Regions from separate parts of the Homo sapiens genome. Here region 2 is reported to be linked to region 1. Evidence: microRNA targets listed by miRTarBase, many of them from high-throughput screens and not tested one by one. Region 1 holds a microRNA gene; the other region holds the end of a gene's coding sequence.
The links. The annotated mature microRNA hsa-miR-1237-3p reads UCCUUCUGCUCCGUCCCCCAG and lies in region 1 at 2,081-2,101, opposite strand. An mRNA with a match to its seed (bases 2 to 7 or 8) in the 3' UTR can be bound and repressed. Matches are read on the target gene's strand: a 7mer-m8 pairs with bases 2 to 8, a 7mer-A1 pairs with bases 2 to 7 and ends in A, and an 8mer does both.

Region 1 (3,408 bases):
GACCCCACCTCTCGAGGCTTCGCCCACCCCTTCCCTTCAACAGACCCTGCCCCTTACCATGAAGGTGGCGTTGAGACCCGAGCGCACTGCGGGCCCAGAGGACTCGAGCACGTCGGGCGTCCGGAGCGGGGGCGAGGAGCGCGCGCTGCCGTCCTGCAGCCACGAGCTGCCCCGCAGTCCCTCGAGCTTCAGCCGCTTGGCGGGGTCCACGGTCAGGAGCCCTGGAGGCGGGGCAAGGAAGTGTGGGGAGGAGCCTGGCGTAAAGGCTGAGCCCCAAAGAGATCGTAACAGCCCCACTCTCCTCCCCTACCCATCCCCAACCAGGACACCTGGCCCAGTGACCATCCCTGTCCCAGCGTCCCCCTCCCCAACCATGGTCTATGACCTCCAGCTCCGCACCTCGGACCAGCTCCTTGGCTTCCTCGGATACACCCTGCCAGGCCTCCCCGTCAAGGGAGAAGCGCCCCTCGCGGATTTTGCACATGATCTCGGCCGCCTGGCTCTGCCCGCCCTGGCCAGAGGCCCCCTGGAAGGGGACCTGCCCCGACAGCATCATGTACTAGGAGGGTGAGGGGAAGGTGAGGCCGGCCCAGGCTGGGGTGCCGAGGCTGACCCCTCCGCTCCCACAGAACCACTCACCCTCCCCACTAGGGGCACTCCTGAGACCCACGCGTGGTGAACCCTGACTTCTAACCCCCAATACCCGGATGCTCCGACTCTAGCACCAGAGCGACCCCACCTCTGTATTTGAACCACCCCGATCCCAGCTTCGGACGAAACCCAGCCGCCCCCACCAAGATGACCCCTGTCCCCTCCCTCGTGCTGCTGCACATCAGGAAGACGCCAGGTCCGAGCGACCCTGACCCCGCCTCAAGGACCGCGTCCCATACCAGAATGACGCCCAGGCTCCAGAGGTCGCAGGACTCGTCGTAGCCCTGCTGCGCCAGCAGCTCGGGGGCAGCGTACTGCAGCGTGAAGCAGGGCGTCTGCATGGGCACCCCGGGACTCTGCGGCCGCAACCGCGCGAACCCGAAGTCGATGATTTTCACCGGGGCCCCGGGCGTGTCGTCGGCGTACAGGATGTTCTGCGAGGGCGGCGGGGTAGTGGTCAGAGGCAGCCCCCGGCGCCACCGCTCCGCCCCGCCGCCGAGGCAGCTCGCCCACCTCCGGCTTGAGGTCGCGGTGCACCACGCCCGCCTCCTCGTGCATGAAGCTCACGGCCGACACGAGGCTGCGCAGGATCTGGCTTGCTTCCGACTCGCTGAAGTGCCGCTTCTTGCGGATGTGCTCCAGCAGCTCCCCGCCCCGCAGCAGCTCCAGGACCAGGTACGTGTGCAGCTGCGGGCGGCGTGGCGGGCCAAGGTCAACACCCACCCACGGCGGCAAGCCCCCTCCCACCACCCAGGCCCCGCCCCCGGCCTTCGGGCCCTGCCAATGTTCGAGAACCCCCTCCTCAAAGTCCTTTTTCTTTCTTTCTTTCTTTGTTACTTTTTTGGAGACAGTCTCGCTTTGTCGCCCAGGCTGGAATGCAGTGGCACCACCTCGGCTCACTGCAACCTCTGCCTTCCGGGTTCAAGCGATTCTCGTGCCTCAGCCTCCCAAGTAGCTGGGATTACAGGCGCACGCCACCGCGTCCGGCTAATTTTTGTATTTTTCGTAGAGACGGGGTTTCGCCATGTTCCCAGGCTGGTCTCGAACTCCCGACTTCAAGTGATCCGCCCACCTCGACCTCCCAAAGTGCTGGGATCACAGGCGTGAGCCATCGCGCCCGGCCAAAGTCCCTTTTCTTGTCCATCCTCAGCTCCGCCTTCCCGTCCTCAGGCCCTACTCCCCTCAAATTCCACTCCCTGCGCCTCCCTGGTCCCTTTGGGCCCCGAATCAAACGCTAGGCCCCGCCCAATTCACCCCTAGATCCCGCCCATAGTGCCCCCAAGCCCCGCCGCCTGCCCCTTTTCTCTCCGCCCTCCCCTGGCCGGAAGCCATCACCTGGTCGTGATGCACCTCGTGCAGATTCACCACGTTGGGGTGTGACTGGCACAGGCGCAGGGCAGCCACTTCGCGCTGCGTGTTCGCCTCCAGCCTGGGGGACGGAGCAGAAGGAGTTACGGTCGCCGCGCTTCGGCCCCGCCCCCGGGACAGCGCTCTGCCACCCCCACCCCTGCCCGCGCCTGGGCCCTCCCACCTGCGACTGAGGATCTTGACTGCGAACTCCTGGCCGCTCTGGCGCTGGCGGCAGCGGCGACACACAGAAAAGCTGCCCTGGCCCAGCGCAGGCTCCCGCAGGTCCAGCTCGTACTGCTGGAAGAAGGGCGAGTCCTGGAGGCGAAGGCGAAGGCGAAGGCGAAGGCGGCGCGTCAGAGGTCCCACCTGGTAGCCCCGCGGCCCCGCCACGCCCCATGTCGGAGAGGCTTAGGACCTTGCTGAGCTCACGCTGCGGGCGCCAGTTGGATCTAGGCCTAGAGTCCCCGGGCCTAGGCCTCTCCTAAAACCAATTTCCCCCCAACCCAGCCCAGCCCAGCCCACCTGCATCATAGCGCTCCTGGCCACCGCTGCCCGACCTGGCCGGTCTCCAGCACCAGGCGCTTCCAGCCCATCGGTCATCACCGCGTTGTTGTGGTCAAAGAGAATGGAGGGTGCCACAAAGGAGTATCCCTGCAGGGCGGGAGTCCGGGGAATGGGCATGGGCATGGGGGTTGGGGGTGCGGGTGAGGAGACTCTGGTGGGGAACCAGGCAAAGGCAAGACCCTGGACAAGGGGGCAGTGGGGGGTGTTCCAGTTGCATTCTGGTACACACAGGATGTGTGGACACTTTTTATTCCACCTGGTTTTATAATCACTTGGGGCCATGTCTGTCCCCACCAGCCTGTGACCCCAACTTTCTCATCAGAGTGACCACTTATTCCTCCCCAGGTGCCAAGGGCTGAAGGCACTGAAAGGACCAATGAATATATTGAAAGTGTGGCCTGAGTTCACGCTTAGCTTATGAGAATCCAACTCTATCCGCTGAGGAAAAAAAACTTATTCCTCCCTTTCAAGCCGGACTTTGGCTTCTTCTGCAAGGGGAGCTACTGAAGAAATGCAAAAAGAAGGCAGAGTTAATTCTTTGCTTTTCCTAAAGATCCATGTCCTGGCAATTTGAGGAGCTTTTAAGGGTCATTTTAATTGCGTGTTGTGGCCAGGCACGGTGGCTTGCGCCTGTAATCCCAGTACTTTGGGAGGCTGAGGCAGGTAGATCACCTGAGGTCAGGAGTTTGAGACCAGCCTGACCAACATGGAGAAACCCCATCTCTACTAATAATACAAAAATTAGCCAGGCGTGGTGGCACATGCCTGTAATCCCAGCTACTCGGGAGGCTGAGGCACGAGAATCGCTTGAACCCGGGAGGCAGAGGTTGCGGTGAGCCGATA
Region 2 (3,408 bases), not on the chromosome of region 1:
TATAAATAGGTACAAAATAAAGTGTCAACATTAAAAAGCTCAACTATTTAAAAGCTTTTAACTATTTAACTTAAGTAGTACATATAAAACACTGAAACTCAAAGATATGGAATCTACTAAACAGATTCAAAGTCTTTTTTTTTTTGAAATGCAAGACCAAAAAATCAAATTCTGGTTTGCAGACAGGAAAAAAGTATCAAAAACCAGAATTCCTAACAGAGCAGCTAGAAAGGGGCAATTTTATAAACCTTATCAGCTGAATATCATGAGGTGATTTTCACCTGATTGCAAAACTGCCATAGTTTGAAACACTTTTCAATTTACCAGACACACTCTGTCAAGACTTCATATACTTCCAACTTGCAAGCCTGTGTTTTGCCTTCTCCAACCTAAAAAGGAAAAGCTTTAAACGATGAACTTACATTCTATTAAACCATCAGACTTGAGCTTATCATCTGTTTAGCGTGAATGTACAAACCAGGTACATTTCCACCAAACACATAGAAAAATCTTGTGCATCACAGTTCAGCTAAGGTGGTAAGACAATCCTTACAATCCTCCTTGGATTTCTTTTTTAAGATGTCAAAGAAGCAGGTAAGCAACATTGTTCATTTGTTACTGGGTGTTCTAGATCAAACCTTCACAAGCTATATATATAGCTTCATATGCTATAGCTTACAAATGGGGTAACAAAGTAAAAGAAAAGAACAAATTATACTTTGACACTTTATAGTCAAAGTATAATTAAAAAAGAAATCCTACAGTGGGTAATGGAGAAATAGATAATTTTTCCAGCAGCTATGCCTGAAATTTTTGGTATTTTTTTCCTTGCTAAATATGCTTTTTTTCTTTTTTTAGTTTTTAAGCCACCAGTTTTCAGAGTTCAAAGCACAAGATTTGAGAATAAAACAGTAAGAGAGACAGGATGGAAAAATCTGTGGGGGAAGGTTTATAATGCTGCCTTGACATAAGAAATTTCTCATCAAGAGGTAAAGCTTGAACACAGTTAAAACACTGACTAATGAAGCTGTTTTATATGAGCAAAAAAGAGCACCTAAAAACTAAATGTGTTAATGTTTCTCAATTCTAGAAACTATAGAAGAATAAGTCACATGTTAAGTTTGAAGAAGCTAGTTTGAAAATACCTGTACAAAAATATAAAAATCTATAAATTGTTTTTGTTTTAGCCTGTGTTGATCTTTGAAAATATTACATGCACAATAATACATCAATCGGAAAAGTGGCAACTAAAGAATTAGATATTTTTAGCTTTTTTCTTTCTTTACATATATATATATACATAATACAATAAAAATAATCTATTTTGTTGTCTGGTGGAAGTATACTACAATAAGCTAAATAAACATTTTAATTTTCAAAGTCAAAAACTATTTTATCAATAGCTTACTAAAATGAAATATATTAAAATTTCCTACAATAAGTGCAGAAATAAAAGACATCTAAATGGCCACCAACTTATCTACTATGGAAGCGAACTAGAGGAACAGCAAAATAATATTTGTATGTATGGATGCTCCTTCTGTAGATAATTGGACCCAAACAGAAATAAAATTCACAGTTCAGTAAGATCCCTAACCCTGACCTTTTTTTTTCTTTTTTTTCTCCTTTTTTTTCATACATTCATACAGTATCATGTAAGCTGTGCAAAACTTTACTTAGACTGGCAGTTTGCCATATCAGTTGCATTTGTCTTTGGTACAAAAAATAAAACAATCGCAATAATGTGCAAGTATTTGTCTTCTTCCGGTCAAGTACCGAAATATGAGTTTTCTAGAGCCATCTTTTTTTTGTTGTTTTTTGTTTTGTTTTTTATACAATACACAGACTCTGTGGCATATATCTACATTTCAACATAGTCCTATATACATTCAAAAAATCTGAAAAAGAGTTGGAACAAAAAAACATTTAAACCCCATAATTTTTCCATCTATATATCTTGTTTTTTCTCATTAGGGTTTTCATCATACAAAATATTACCAGTTTTAGAGTTTCCCCAAAATACAAGGCACAAAGAATATGCTTTTTTTTTCTTACTTGCACAGACATTTGTGTGTGTGTGTGTATATATATATATATATATATATATTTATATATATCATCTTGAGCTCTGACAATGAACATCTAATATGGCCCACAGGCACAAGTGCTGGGTGTGCCATATACAAGTGAGATTAATGGTTGTGGAAAATTAGAACAAAAAGCAATAATTCTAAAAACAATTTAAACCGACTGTTTAAAAAAATGCTTCCTCAATTTTTTTGTGTGGTTCAGAGCATAAATCTGCCACAATACTTGGCATTTTACTATTTCACTCCTCCAAAATGTTTTGCTTTAACAGATTTTTGTAATCTGTACCTAACATTTACTTAAACATATGATTTTCAATTCTGATGCCAGTAGCAGTTTTAATCATGGTTTATGCTCTGAAAATGCAATAATCAAGTATTTTGGATCATGCTTCACTTATGCTACTTAGTTCTTAAAACAATGTAACCTAATTGTAAATGTTTACATAATGCTAACTGACATGCAAAACAGAATGAAAATTTACAATGGATAACGTGACAAAACGCAGACATTTCTGACCAGTGGTCCAATGAGGCTGATTACACCTTTGATGTTGGTATCCTTAATCCTACAAGGCCTCCAGTGGGATTCCCTTCTGCAGTCTTCTCTAACACTTGGTTAACAAATTCTGAGGTTTGCCCAGCAACTGGTAGACCTGAAGAGAAGAATAAAAGGCACATCTAGACACAAAAATGGAAGGCCATGAAGGGAAGGGAAGGAGCTGGTAAAAACTGAGGTTCAGGTGTGGCCCTCAGCTTGATACTGGTCCCAAATGAATTCCCTGGCACTTGTTATTGCAGCTCAGAAAACAATGCTACCCTTCATATTACTGTCTAAAATTTTAAGATTAGAAAAGTCAAACCAAGGATAGCCATGAAAAATCATAAACCAACATTTAAAGTGAGGTAGATGACAAGTGTAACAGTCCAAATAACAGTCCAAACCCAAACCCAAAGGCTGCCGACAGGCACTGCTTCCCACGCCCTGGTTTTTCCCTGTTCTCTCAGCCAGTCTCTTCCAATTACTCTAAACTCACCAAGTTCCATGGGTAGGTTTCACCCATGAAACTGAAAATATAGACCTGAAGGATGTTTTGGGTCATTTTTATAATTACTGGATACAGTTTAAGTTTCCTTTTCTTCATTTAAAAAAGTGAATGAACGAATAAGAAATGTTGGAAGAGAAGAGGGAGAAAGGTGGGAGCAGCATAAGTATGTAGATTTTCTCATCTTCCTCATCTTCCATAGTAAGACCAAAAGATAAAATCACTAAATCAAATAACAGAGGTATAAGTACATTTTTTTAAGTATTAAGAAAAAT

Region 2: the mRNA of CREBRF is a reported target of hsa-miR-1237-3p. Seed matches in the 3' UTR shown: 8mer at 1,536-1,543.

The regions. Positions count from the first base shown.
Region 1 is chr11:64,367,376-64,370,783 of GRCh38, reverse strand. MIR1237 (microRNA 1237) reads right to left here and starts at 2,182; the gene lies at 2,081-2,182. RPS6KA4 (ribosomal protein S6 kinase A4) reads right to left here. Exons shown (of 17, transcript NM_003942.3): 10 at 2,524-2,652; 11 at 2,183-2,316; 12 at 1,987-2,080; 13 at 1,165-1,338; 14 at 891-1,085; 15 at 400-559; 16 at 58-221. RefSeq lists an enhancer at 1,106-1,625.
Region 2 is chr5:173,132,965-173,136,372 of GRCh38, reverse strand. It overlaps CREBRF (CREB3 regulatory factor), which reads right to left. Exons shown (of 9, transcript NM_153607.3): 9 at 1-2,743. The coding sequence ends at 2,628. Among named protein-coding and RNA genes, the nearest start is that of BNIP1, 9.9 kb to the left of the region's middle.